Linked DNA regions of Homo sapiens. The protein of the gene in region 1 interacts with the protein of each later gene in a biochemical or structural test. Each region holds a gene or a part of one and is shown in the gene's direction. Other genes may lie near its edges.

The links.
Region 2: the proteins of MAML1 (region 1) and CDK8 form a complex in vitro, tested with the Homo sapiens proteins (one study listed by BioGRID).
Region 3: the proteins of MAML1 (region 1) and NOTCH2 form a complex in vitro, tested with the Homo sapiens proteins (one study listed by BioGRID).

What each region holds. Positions count from the first base shown.
Region 1 is NC_000005.10:179,770,779-179,774,531, forward strand, and holds part of MAML1 (mastermind-like protein 1), read left to right. Parts: intron 1-368; coding exon 369-465; intron 466-3,116; coding exon 3,117-3,753. UniProt on the Homo sapiens protein: Acts as a transcriptional coactivator for NOTCH proteins. Has been shown to amplify NOTCH-induced transcription of HES1. Enhances phosphorylation and proteolytic turnover of the NOTCH intracellular domain in the nucleus through interaction with CDK8.
Region 2 is NC_000013.11:26,257,103-26,260,855, forward strand, and holds part of CDK8 (cyclin-dependent kinase 8), read left to right. Parts: intron 1-3,753.
Region 3 is NC_000001.11:120,063,060-120,066,812, reverse strand, and holds part of NOTCH2 (neurogenic locus notch homolog protein 2 isoform 1 preproprotein), read left to right. Parts: intron 1-3,753. UniProt on the Homo sapiens protein: Functions as a receptor for membrane-bound ligands Jagged-1 (JAG1), Jagged-2 (JAG2) and Delta-1 (DLL1) to regulate cell-fate determination.

The sequences.
Region 1 (3,753 bases):
CTCATTTTACATTCCCACCAGCGGTGTATGAGGGTGCTGATTTCTCTACATCCTCACCAACCACTTGTTATCATCTGACTTTGATTCTGGCCATCCTAGTGGGATCTCATTGTAGCTGTGATTTGCATTTTCCTAACCAGCTCTCCATTTTTTAAAAACAGGTATACCTACCTTTTAAAAAAGTCATTGCTCCCTAGATCTGTTTCATACTATTTAAAAACCCCAAAATGAAATCAGCACTATTTCCACAGGAGCCCATTTGTGAGTAACAAACTTGGATAAGTTACTTTTCTCTGACCTCCCTCACTCCCTTTGTTTTGGATTTTGTTATATGTTGGTTTTGTTTTGTTGTTCTTGGCATTTTCTAGGAGAAGCAACAGTTTCAGCGCCATCTGACCCGCCCACCACCCCAGTACCAAGACCCGACACAAGGCAGCTTCCCACAGCAGGTTGGACAGTTCACAGGTAGGGGGTGTCTGTGTGACGAGCAGGGACAGGGGAGGCCGCTGCCTGGTGCTGGTTGAATCCCTGCTGTCTGCCCAGCTCTATGCCTTGACTTCATCAGGCTGCATGCATTGTCATCATATACACCTCAGTTTGCCTAAGGGGCCTGGTTTTCTAGTTACTCCACGGCATCAGGAGAAGAGGGCACAGAGGCAAACCACTAGAACTACCTTTGCTGGGTCCCTGGCTGTACAGTTTTCTGAAGCAAAATCATTTCTAGTTGGAGGACATCTTATCAGCAGGAAATAGCTTCTGTAATTCTCAAGAAAGTTCTTTGCTTCTGCTTTTATGTGTCTTCAAAAAATGACTCCTATCTTCCAGATAAGGACTTAATGCACTTGCGTGGCCTTTGGCTTCTTTCTCTCCTCCTGTCTGCTCACTTGAATATCACAGATGGCAGCATCACTAGTGGACAGTTGGCCAGAAAAGGGCAGGAAGCACACTTGAGTCTAGCTGTCGCCTCTGAGATGTGCCAGGGAACTTCATAGGCCATCCCTCCAGAAATGCACAAAGATTTCAGGGAATGGATACAGGAAGCTCTGGTCTGCCCGCCTTCCTAGCTCCTCTCAGAATGTCTTAGAAACCTCTGTTTTTCCTTATTTGGGACCTTGCTATAAAGGGTCCCAGAGAGACTGACCACAGCTGTGTGTCCTGGAGGAGACCAGGTACGGTTTTATGTATGTGCTACCTGGGGTCAACGTGGGGTTGAAATCTGCAGGCATTTCAGAAGCATGGGTCTGACCCATGTTTTCTGCCTTCAGACCCATCTGACATTTTGTGGATTATTGATGGGAATGAAATAGCCGGTTTCAGCTCTCCTCTTTTCCTCAACCCAATTTCATTGTTGTTGTTTTGAAACAGAGTCTTGGTCTGTCGCCCAGGCTGCAGTGCAGTGGCACGATCTTGGCTCACTACAACCTCCACCTCCTAGGTTCAAGCGATTCTCCTGCCTCAGCCTCCCAAGCAGCTGGGATTACAGGCGCCTGCCACCACGCCCGGCTCATTTTTGTATTTTTAGTAGAGATGGGCTTTCACCATGTTAGCCAGGCTGATCTCACATACCTGACCTCGTGATCTGCCCGCCTTGGCCTCCCAAAGTGCTAGGATTACAGGTGTGAGCTACCGTGCCCGGCCCCAATTTTTATTATATGGTTGCTAGTAGAGAGGAAGAAGAACAAAGCACTGAGTTACGGCCAATCCCTGAACAATGACTCTCCTACCCACAAAACCTAATTCAGTTAATGGTGTTGTCATATGTCCATTGCTTAAGCCAGGAGGCCTAGACAGCAGTTCCCTGAGCATAGGGGTGCTTTCTCTTCCACCCTCTGCTGTCTCTCCAGCACAGCACCTGCCACAGAGTGGGTACTCAGTGAAGATCTGGTAATTTCCTGCGACTCCTCCCTCCTTTGGCCACCTTGTCATTTCATAGTATAAATGGTGTGCCATAAGATGGTATATTGTCTGGTGAGATGTTGTCACACAGTTCTGCACCTCCACCCCCCATTCCCACATGGTCTGCCCTCCCTCATCTCCGTGACTGAACAGCCTCTCCCCAGCATGGTCTCAGCCACACTCTCAGTCCAGCCACTCTTGGGCTTTACAACCCTGTTCTTTGTTTGTTTGTTTGAGACAGAGTCTTGCTCTTTCGCCTAGGCTGGAGTGCAGTGGCATGATCTCGGCTCACTGCAGCCTCCGCCTCCCGGATTCAAGCAATTCTCCTGCCTCAGCCTCCCGAGTAGCTGGGGGCGCGCGCCGCCACGCCTGGCTAATTTTTGTATTTTTAGTAGAGACAGGGTTTCACTATGTTGGCCAGGATGGTCTTGATCTCCTGACCTCGTGATTCGCCCGCCTCGGTCTCCCAAAGTGCTGGGATTACAGGCGTGAACCACCGCGCCCGGCCACAACCCCGTTCTTCACACGCCATCCACAGCTCTTCCCTATCTGGCCGGAACTAGCTCTTCCATTTTATCTCTAACCAGCTGGCCACTGTCTGCATATCCCGGCCACGGCCAGTCTCTGAAAGTTCCCCACACAGATGCCTTTTTCTGACTCTGCCTTTGCACACACTTGCCTGGAATGCTCTTTTTCCCCAAACTGTTAAATTGCTAAACTTCTGTGCTTTTAAACCTAGTGGATTCATCACTGTCTCTCTCAAGCCTTGCCCAAGGCTTCCCAGATGCCAGGGCTTCCAGCCTGCACCCTGCAGCCTGCTGGCCAGGCGCGCCCCATCGCGCCCCATTGCGCCCCATCGTGCCATGTGCTAACTTTGCCTCCCAGAGGCGGATCTTGCGTTGGGTCCACCTCAGAGTCCCCGGTGCCCACCACAGGGTCCCCACAGAGCAGAAATTTGGTGGGTGCTTGAAAGTTAGATGAAGTAGGTCACTGGTTTTCTCTCCCCTGGGGCTTTGCCCTTCCTCTGTGCCTTTCTGAACCCCATCATTGTTTCAGAGACCAGGCCTCCATTCCACCTGTGGAAGGCTTTCTGCCCCATGGCCCCCGGGGCCCTCTTCCCAGTGTGCCGTGAACGTGAGACTTCTGGTGCTGCGGCTCGAGTCTCAGAGGGACCCAGTGGTGGTCGACTCCTGACTGCCAGACTCTTCTCTGTCTTGTAGGGTCCTCTGCTGCCGTGCCCGGCATGAACACCTTGGGTCCATCCAACTCCAGCTGTCCTCGAGTGTTCCCTCAGGCTGGGAATCTGATGCCAATGGGCCCTGGACATGCTTCAGTTTCCTCTCTCCCCACAAACTCAGGCCAACAGGACCGGGGTGTGGCTCAGTTCCCTGGCTCCCAAAACATGCCTCAGAGCAGCCTCTATGGCATGGCTTCTGGCATAACCCAGATAGTTGCCCAGCCCCCGCCACAGGCCACCAATGGACATGCCCACATTCCACGGCAGACCAACGTGGGCCAGAACACCTCCGTCTCAGCTGCCTATGGGCAGAACTCTCTGGGAAGCTCTGGCCTCTCCCAGCAGCACAATAAGGGGACCCTGAACCCTGGTTTAACAAAGCCACCGGTCCCAAGGGTGTCACCAGCCATGGGAGGCCAGAATTCCTCCTGGCAGCATCAGGGAATGCCGAACCTCAGTGGCCAGACCCCAGGGAACAGCAACGTGAGTCCCTTCACTGCAGCCTCCAGTTTCCACATGCAGCAGCAGGCCCACCTGAAAATGTCTAGCCCGCAATTCTCCCAGGCAGTGCCCAACAGGCCCATGGCTCCCATGAGCTCAGCAGCTGCCGTGGGGTCCTT
Region 2 (3,753 bases), on another chromosome or scaffold:
ATTTGTTTCTAGTATTGATTTACTTTCAAATTACATTATATATTCTGCAGCTGAGATTTGTTCTCTAGGAACTCAGACAGTAACACCTTTAAGGAGAACCTGAGATTTTCTATAAAAGGAAGTAACGCAAATAAGCTTGGTTTAGACATATTTGACTATTGAAATGAATGTATGTAAACGTTGTATCCTTTCAGTTGCCCAGTGAGCATAGAACATGAATAATTGGTAAAATAATTTAGACCAGAGAAGTTAGCTGCTTAAATTATTAAGTTTTAGGAAATAAAATAGCTTCAAAGATTCATTTCTTTGACTTACTTGAGGCATGATTGCATAGTAGGGAAAAGGGACCTTTTATAACTTTGTTAATTTCACATTATAATAGAGTTTAAAGAAATGCACAATAAATCTTGGGATTAATTTGTTCTCACTCGTGTCGCCGTAAATGAGATAGTGTCCTTTGTGTCTGAACACTTAAAGAGTACTCAGTGGGAAGCAGGGGGGTTCATTTTCTTTCTGAGTTGATTGTATCTCCTCTTTGCAGAGTTTAGGCAACCAAACTAATTTTGTTTTAAAGAGTAAGAGAGCGTTAGAAGACAGAAAACAATTTGTGTTTTTAAATTCTAGACTTCAATATTTGCACTGAATGTTTGGATAATTTAAAATATCAATTTGGGATAAGAGGTTTTTCTTCAAAAAAGAAAAACAAAAGGCATTTTCTTAGCAGGGTTTTTAATCTGTTATAATCTATGTTCCAAAGAATAGATAATTATGAGTGAGGAATGAGTGTGTGTTTGTGTGTGTGTGTGTGTGTGTGTGTGTGAGAGAGAGAGAGATACTGCCAACTTTCTTTGGGGCACATTTGTTGAGAGCCCAGAGATTAGTAAGTAGGCAGTGATAATGGCAATAATAGCTAAATTACTGAGTAATTAAGTTTCAGGTCCTGGGCAAAGCACTTTACATTCATCATCTAGTTAGTCCTCACAAGAAGTATATCAAGTCAATTCTGTTATTTTTCAGTTTTCCAGTTGAGGAAACTGAGGCTTAGAAAGGTTAAGCAAATTTACCCATGAGTACACAGCTAATTAAATGTCAGCTAAGATTAGAGGATTAGGCGCAGGTTTTTCACTCCAGAGCCCATGCTCTTAACCATTATGCTTCCTATAATTAATATATTGAATAAGTAAAAAAATAGTTATGGAGTTTGATTTCTAGTGGGTTATTCAAAAACATAAATACCTTGTAGAACTATTAATATTTGCTTCAATAAACTGGTGTACTTTCTGGGTATATTGCTGAAGCACCCTTTTTTTCAAGTGCTATAAAACTGTTTATGTAGATATATGGGTGTGTCTGTACGTATATACACAAACATACTTGTGTATCTAGAGGGGTGTGTGTGTGTGTGTGTGTGTAGGACTAAACTCTAATGAAAGCCATGTGGAAGCACTTCATCTAGTGGAAAGAACTCTAGATGAGCGATCCTGGAAACCTGAATTTGAATTCAGACTGTGCTTCTGATAGCAGTATGACCTTGGGCAAGTCATTTGCCCTTATAGCTCTTAGTAGGGGGGTTTCAGCATATAATTTTTAGGGTCTTTTCTAGTATTATGATTTGAGGAAGTAAAAATTATGAACATAAAATGTAATATTTTTTGCAAGATTAGGCAAACAACCACTAAAAAATTTTACTTTAGATGATGGTGCATTTCCATATTTTTTAGTCTCATGCTTTAACGTTGGTTCTCATCAACTGCCAAAAAGCTTGGTAACTCCCAAAGACCTATCAGTTACTTAACCCAACATGTCTTACGCTACCTTGCCATTCCTCTGTATTTATCTCTTAAGATATTGAGGATTTATGGACTAGTGCCTGTTCCCACTCCCTTGAACCATTCAGTTGGTGGGCAGCACAAAGGAACTCTTCTGATTCAACCTGCATTGGAGCATCCCATTACCTTTTTCCCCTTCTGAATATGGCTGAATGCTGTATCTAAGTTCATTTTGATTTAAATATTTCTTTAGATGTCAGAAATGCCAAATACAATATGTAATTTCTATCACTGGAATAGTCATGTATACAATAAAGAGTATTCCTTATAACCTTCTAAAAATGTGACAGAAGAGGACAGTTAGTCCCCTGTGTCTGCAGGTCCTGCATCTGTAGATTCAAGCAACTGTGGTTCAAAAATTTTCGAGGGGGTAGGGGGAAGGATAGTTGCATCTCTACTGAGCATGTACAGATTTTTTTTCTTGTCATTATTTCCTTAAAAAATAGAGTATAACAACTGTTTACATAGCATTTACATTTTATTAGGTATTATAAGTAATCTAGAGATGATTTAAAGTGTGTGGGAGGATATGCGTAGGTTATATGCAAATAGGACACCATTTTATATTAGAAACTTGAGCATCTGTGGATTTTGGGGGACGGTCCTGGAACGCACCCCTTGTGGATACTGAGGGATGACTGTATTTGCTGTGTACTTCTTATTTCCATGTGGTTGAAGTTACCTACCTTAGATATCAGTGCATTCAGATCCGCTATTTAGGCCACGTTGAGATTTCATGCTTAAATTTCATTTTTTTAGTAGCAATACTGGAAAATCAATTCATTTGGGATTTGTTCATGTGAGTTATTACTTTTACTGTGTCTTTGAACATTTGAAGAAGTCAATTACTCATTCATTCAACAAGTATTTATTGGACCCTTCTATGTGCCAAGCACTGTCCAAGGTATTGGGAATGCAAAGACGAATGAAGTATTCCATTATTTGGGGAGATAACTACTGGGGAAACAAACATGTAAATGTTGCAATTCAATAAGCACTATAATAATTAATGCAAGGTATATGGCAACACAGAGAAGGAAGTCCCCAACTGGTTAAGGTTTTTAGGAAAAGCTTCAAAGTTTACAGTATTTGATTTGGATCATAGAAGACAGGGAAGGTCTCATCAGAAAAGACATTCCAACAGGAATAGGACAAAGGGATTTTTTTTAAAATTGTATTTTCTGCAGACCCCAGCAAATTTTGTGGGTTTTAATTTTTCCTTGCCATGCCTTTCTTTTCCCCTTGTTTTCCCTGGCCAGCATTTTTTGAGTTCTTGCTGTACGTGTAGTAGTATATATATGCACTACAAATGTTCCATTGTACCCGTTGGACATGGTGAGGTACTCATTATTTAACAGTGGAGATAAATTTATCAGCGTTTGCACCGAACACCATAATTGTGTGTGTGTCAGTTTTCAATCATGAGAACATTGGCCATTCAAGAAAAGCAGCCTCTGAAATCCAGGGGTCTGATTTAAGACTCTCTCATGTGTAAAACTGCCATGGCAGAACTCTGTTTTGCCTGGGGCTCTGGTTGGCAAATGATTCTGCTTTGGCCTCACCTCCATGAGGTGTAAGGAGTCAGAATTTCATATGCTGCTGAGGTGATGGATGGTAACAAATTGGAAGGGGAAAGAAGTTCTTTTGCTACTTAGAGTTTAGGAAGTAATGGAATTTCTCTTGTTGGGGCTCTGATGTGTGGAAAGATGAAAGGTAGGGACAGGGCTTCTGGCATGCTGAATTTCAGCTAGGAAAACAGAAATAATGAAAAATTATAATTATTATAGGCCATTTGCAAACGTAACTACTTTGACAATTAATTCTCTGGGCAAATGTGTTCTAATTCTGATTTATAAACATTTGAAATGTGATTCATTTGTTAGATGGGAACTATGTATGGCAAATCAGTGTTGATAAATACATT
Region 3 (3,753 bases), on another chromosome or scaffold:
AGAGGAGGAGGAGAGTGATTCCTAGTCTCTCTTATTTTTCTGAATGTTTAGATTTAAAAAATATTTACCCATAACTTCTTGGGATCTCTCTGCTCCATTCCCACCCTACTGCCTCTCCTGTAGGCTTCTATGACATAGAGGAGCAACTTTTGGTTCACCTGGATTGTAGTTGCTGACTTCAGGACCTTTAGAGAATGTTTAAATTCAGTGGGATATGCTTGGATGGTTCAGAGCAGCCTTACAATACATCTTAAAAATATCACACCCACAGAAATTCTATTTTGCCCACAAAATTTGCATTGATCTAGTTCCCACTCTGTGTTGCCATTCCTAGTGATCCTCCTCCCTACCTCTCCCATTATGGTAGAAAAAACTCTGTGTCCTGGCTACATCAAAATCTGTTGGGGTGGATCTTGGACTCAGCACCCAGGGATTCTGATAAGGTAAGTTTGAGAATCCATATTTTTTCAAGGTTTACAGGTGATTCTGACAAGTAACTTGGTTGCAACCCACTGATTAAGTACATTTTTTTTTACCTTCAGGTGTGTGTATGAGGTCTTTCTAAATTTAAGAAATTTCCATAACAAATGTAACCTTAGTCATTCCAGTGTTTAACGCTTCTGACTCAAGGAATTTAAAAATTGCTAACGTAAGAGATATAGAATATAATGTCATTTCTTCTATTTATCTGGGTGCAATATGTCTGCATTGACCCTTTAGAAGGGCTTCATATATTTAGATGATATAATAAATTCTCCACCTCTCCTTTTCCCTTTTCTTCTGTTATCTCTTTTTCCTTAAATGTCATTCATACATGTTGTTTTTTGACCCTTTATCTATATACGTCTGCAATGATTTTAGAGTAAAAAACTGCAAGGCGTGATTTGAATAAGGATATAAGAAATTTTACATCATTTTCTTTATATTGTGTTCACAGTCCATAGTTACATGCTTCCTTTCTTGATGTCTCAGTTCGAATGCCTAAATTTGAACTATTGATTTTCCTTCCACCCTTTCCTGATTTTCCTGTTTTTGTTTCTCCCCCTTTCTCTGCAAATGACTTGAAACCAAAAGGTCTTCTTTTCTTTCTTTGTCAGCCTACCGTATGTGTAGTATTTTGGACAGATCACTGAACTAGGAGCCAGAAGACCAGAATTCTTCTCCAGGTCTGTTATTAATTGGTTTGGTGACCTTGTAGGAGAGCCACTGTTTCCGTCCTCCATTTTCTGATGTTCATTGTTCATGGTCACAGAGCCAATTAGAGTTGAGACTAGAATTCCTTTCTTCTGGTGTCCAGTGCCTCATTCACTGTCCTCATTGCTTCCATCTCGTGTACAAATGCGCTTATGTGCACAAAAACTCTTATAACATCCTCAAGTGCTTATTGTTAATGCGTACATGAGGAAGGAATCGTGTATTTTCATTTATGTGTTTATTCTAATGCCCATACCCTACCCCTGTACCTGGCATGATGCCTTGGTATCTAATAGGCACACAATAAATACTTGTTCAGTCGAACAATTATTTTTAGCCATTTTCTTATTTTGGACAACTGTGGTACTCCTAGACATTTTAAAAACAGTATTTGCAGGAGTCATGCTTACCTTACATTTGGGGAAAAACCAAATTTTTCCCTTCCCCAGATGTTTCATTTTAACTTGTAATTTTGAATTTCTTTGTGTGTGGGGTTTCTTTCTTTCTTTTTCTGATCACTTCTGCAATTTATAAAGGTCACTTTGACTTTGGAATCTCACTTCAAAGGCACTGCCATCCACCCCCTGCCTCTCACTCAAGTTTGCTTCCACTGCTTCCTGTATTACTGTATTACTAGGCCAGCAATTTCTGTTATTTTGTCCAGAATAGCCACACCTTATTGTAATTTCATCATTTTGGGGACTAGTCATTTTTGGAATACTATTTTTAAAATTAGAGTTAACTAAGTTTATATTTATTTTGATAATTTTTTTTGAGATTTTTTTCATTGAGTTGGATATTGCAAACTTGTACTGGATTGAGAGAATATGTACATTTAGTAAAGTATATTTGCTTTTTTTTTTTTTTGAACCAAGAGAGTCCCCTGAACACCCTACTGACAAAAACTAAAGATGAAATATGATGAATAAATATTTGAGAGAATCACATGGTGTTGAGTTGTCTCTGCCACATGATTTTGATCCTTGAGGGCCAGGTCTGTGCTACACACATTTCTTCTCTGTACTACAGAACTTGTCTGGCATGTGCCCCAAATTCAGAGTCAACTGAGCAGCAGGTCTTAGTCACAGCATCTATGACTCCTGCTTTCCCACCTTTAGAACATTCTATAGGAGAGGCTGATGGTGAGTTGGAGTGTGTTTCTATGTTCTTTTTTCCTTTGAAGAGATAGGATCAGTTGAAAGCTGACCCCACCCACAGACTTTTTTTGCTATCTCTTTTAATTAATTAAGGAGTGGCTGAAATTTTCCTCTTTGTTGACTTATGCATTGGCGGGAACTTTAAAATTCATCTAGTCTTTCTGTCCATCCCATGCTGGATCTGATGTTTACAACATTCTAGTCAAGAGGTACCATATTTTCTCTCTTCTTGAACATCTCTTGTGGTAGACAGCTCTCCACAGCAGTTTATTCCATCTTTGGCCAGCTCTAATTCTTAGAAAGATCTTCTTATATTCAGCTGTAATCCGTCTCCTCATGACTTGTCCTCATTGACATCTACTCAGAAATTTGTCTCAGAGTCCTGAGACCTGTGCAGGTGATAGGGACCCAAAGAGATGCTTGTCTGTAGACTTTACTGAGCTGACACCCAGCTCTCCATAAAAGGAGTCAAACCCAGTGAGGAGCATGTCTGAGGTGATTGCTCAGGTAAAGCATCTTAGCCCTACTTGTTTCATACCTCCCTGCACAGGTGGGCACTGGTGGGAGAATAACATTTATCAAGCAGTGTTTCCCTAACCTCTCTTATGATAAGAATAGCTCAGGTGTTCTCATGGAGATTCTGATTCAGTGCATCTGGAGTGTCATCTGGGAATTTGTGTGTTCAAGAAATAGCCAGGTGATTCTTACATTAGGAAAGTTTTAGAATCACTGCAGAGTGAATCTGGGAAATCAAAGTGTTTTTGTTTGTTTGTTTTTTGAGAGTATTAGAGACAGGTTGCTTTGGCTAGATCCTGTGGTCATTTTTCCCCCTTGGAAATGCCTCCTACTTGCTGGCCTCACTTAGTACAGAGAAGAAAGCTGCTATGGTATAAGGTTAGTAAAGTTGTTTTGTCTTAAAAGAAATTTGCGAAATCCAGCATTTTCAGACTTCTGTTTGTGTTGTATGACTTTGTTGTAAGCCTCCTTATTCCTCCATTAGAATGTTACCTGAGATGTTAGAATGCATAGGAGTTCCACAGCCTTTTTGGTGTCCACTAAAGAATTCTGTCCTCAGCCGTTGCAAATGGTGCTTCCTTTGAGGATTTCTGCTTCATTAGCTCATGAACACATATTTGGTGTCGGCAGTTTCCCTCAGATGTGTTAGTGTGGAGAGATATAAAGGTCACTCATTTCTGGCAGTCCTGCTTTTGGGGTTTCTGGGCTGCTGCAGCAAATGAAATAAGGAAAGGAAAATAAAGGAGGAATCTAGGGCTTCTTGAGCAGAACAAAACAATCTGCAAGAAGGGGCACAGGATTGCTCCTCTCACAAAGACACTTGATAATACTGTCCTTGATAGGAAGAAGGAAGTGGCTTCAGATCTGAAAGGATATGCTCATAGGC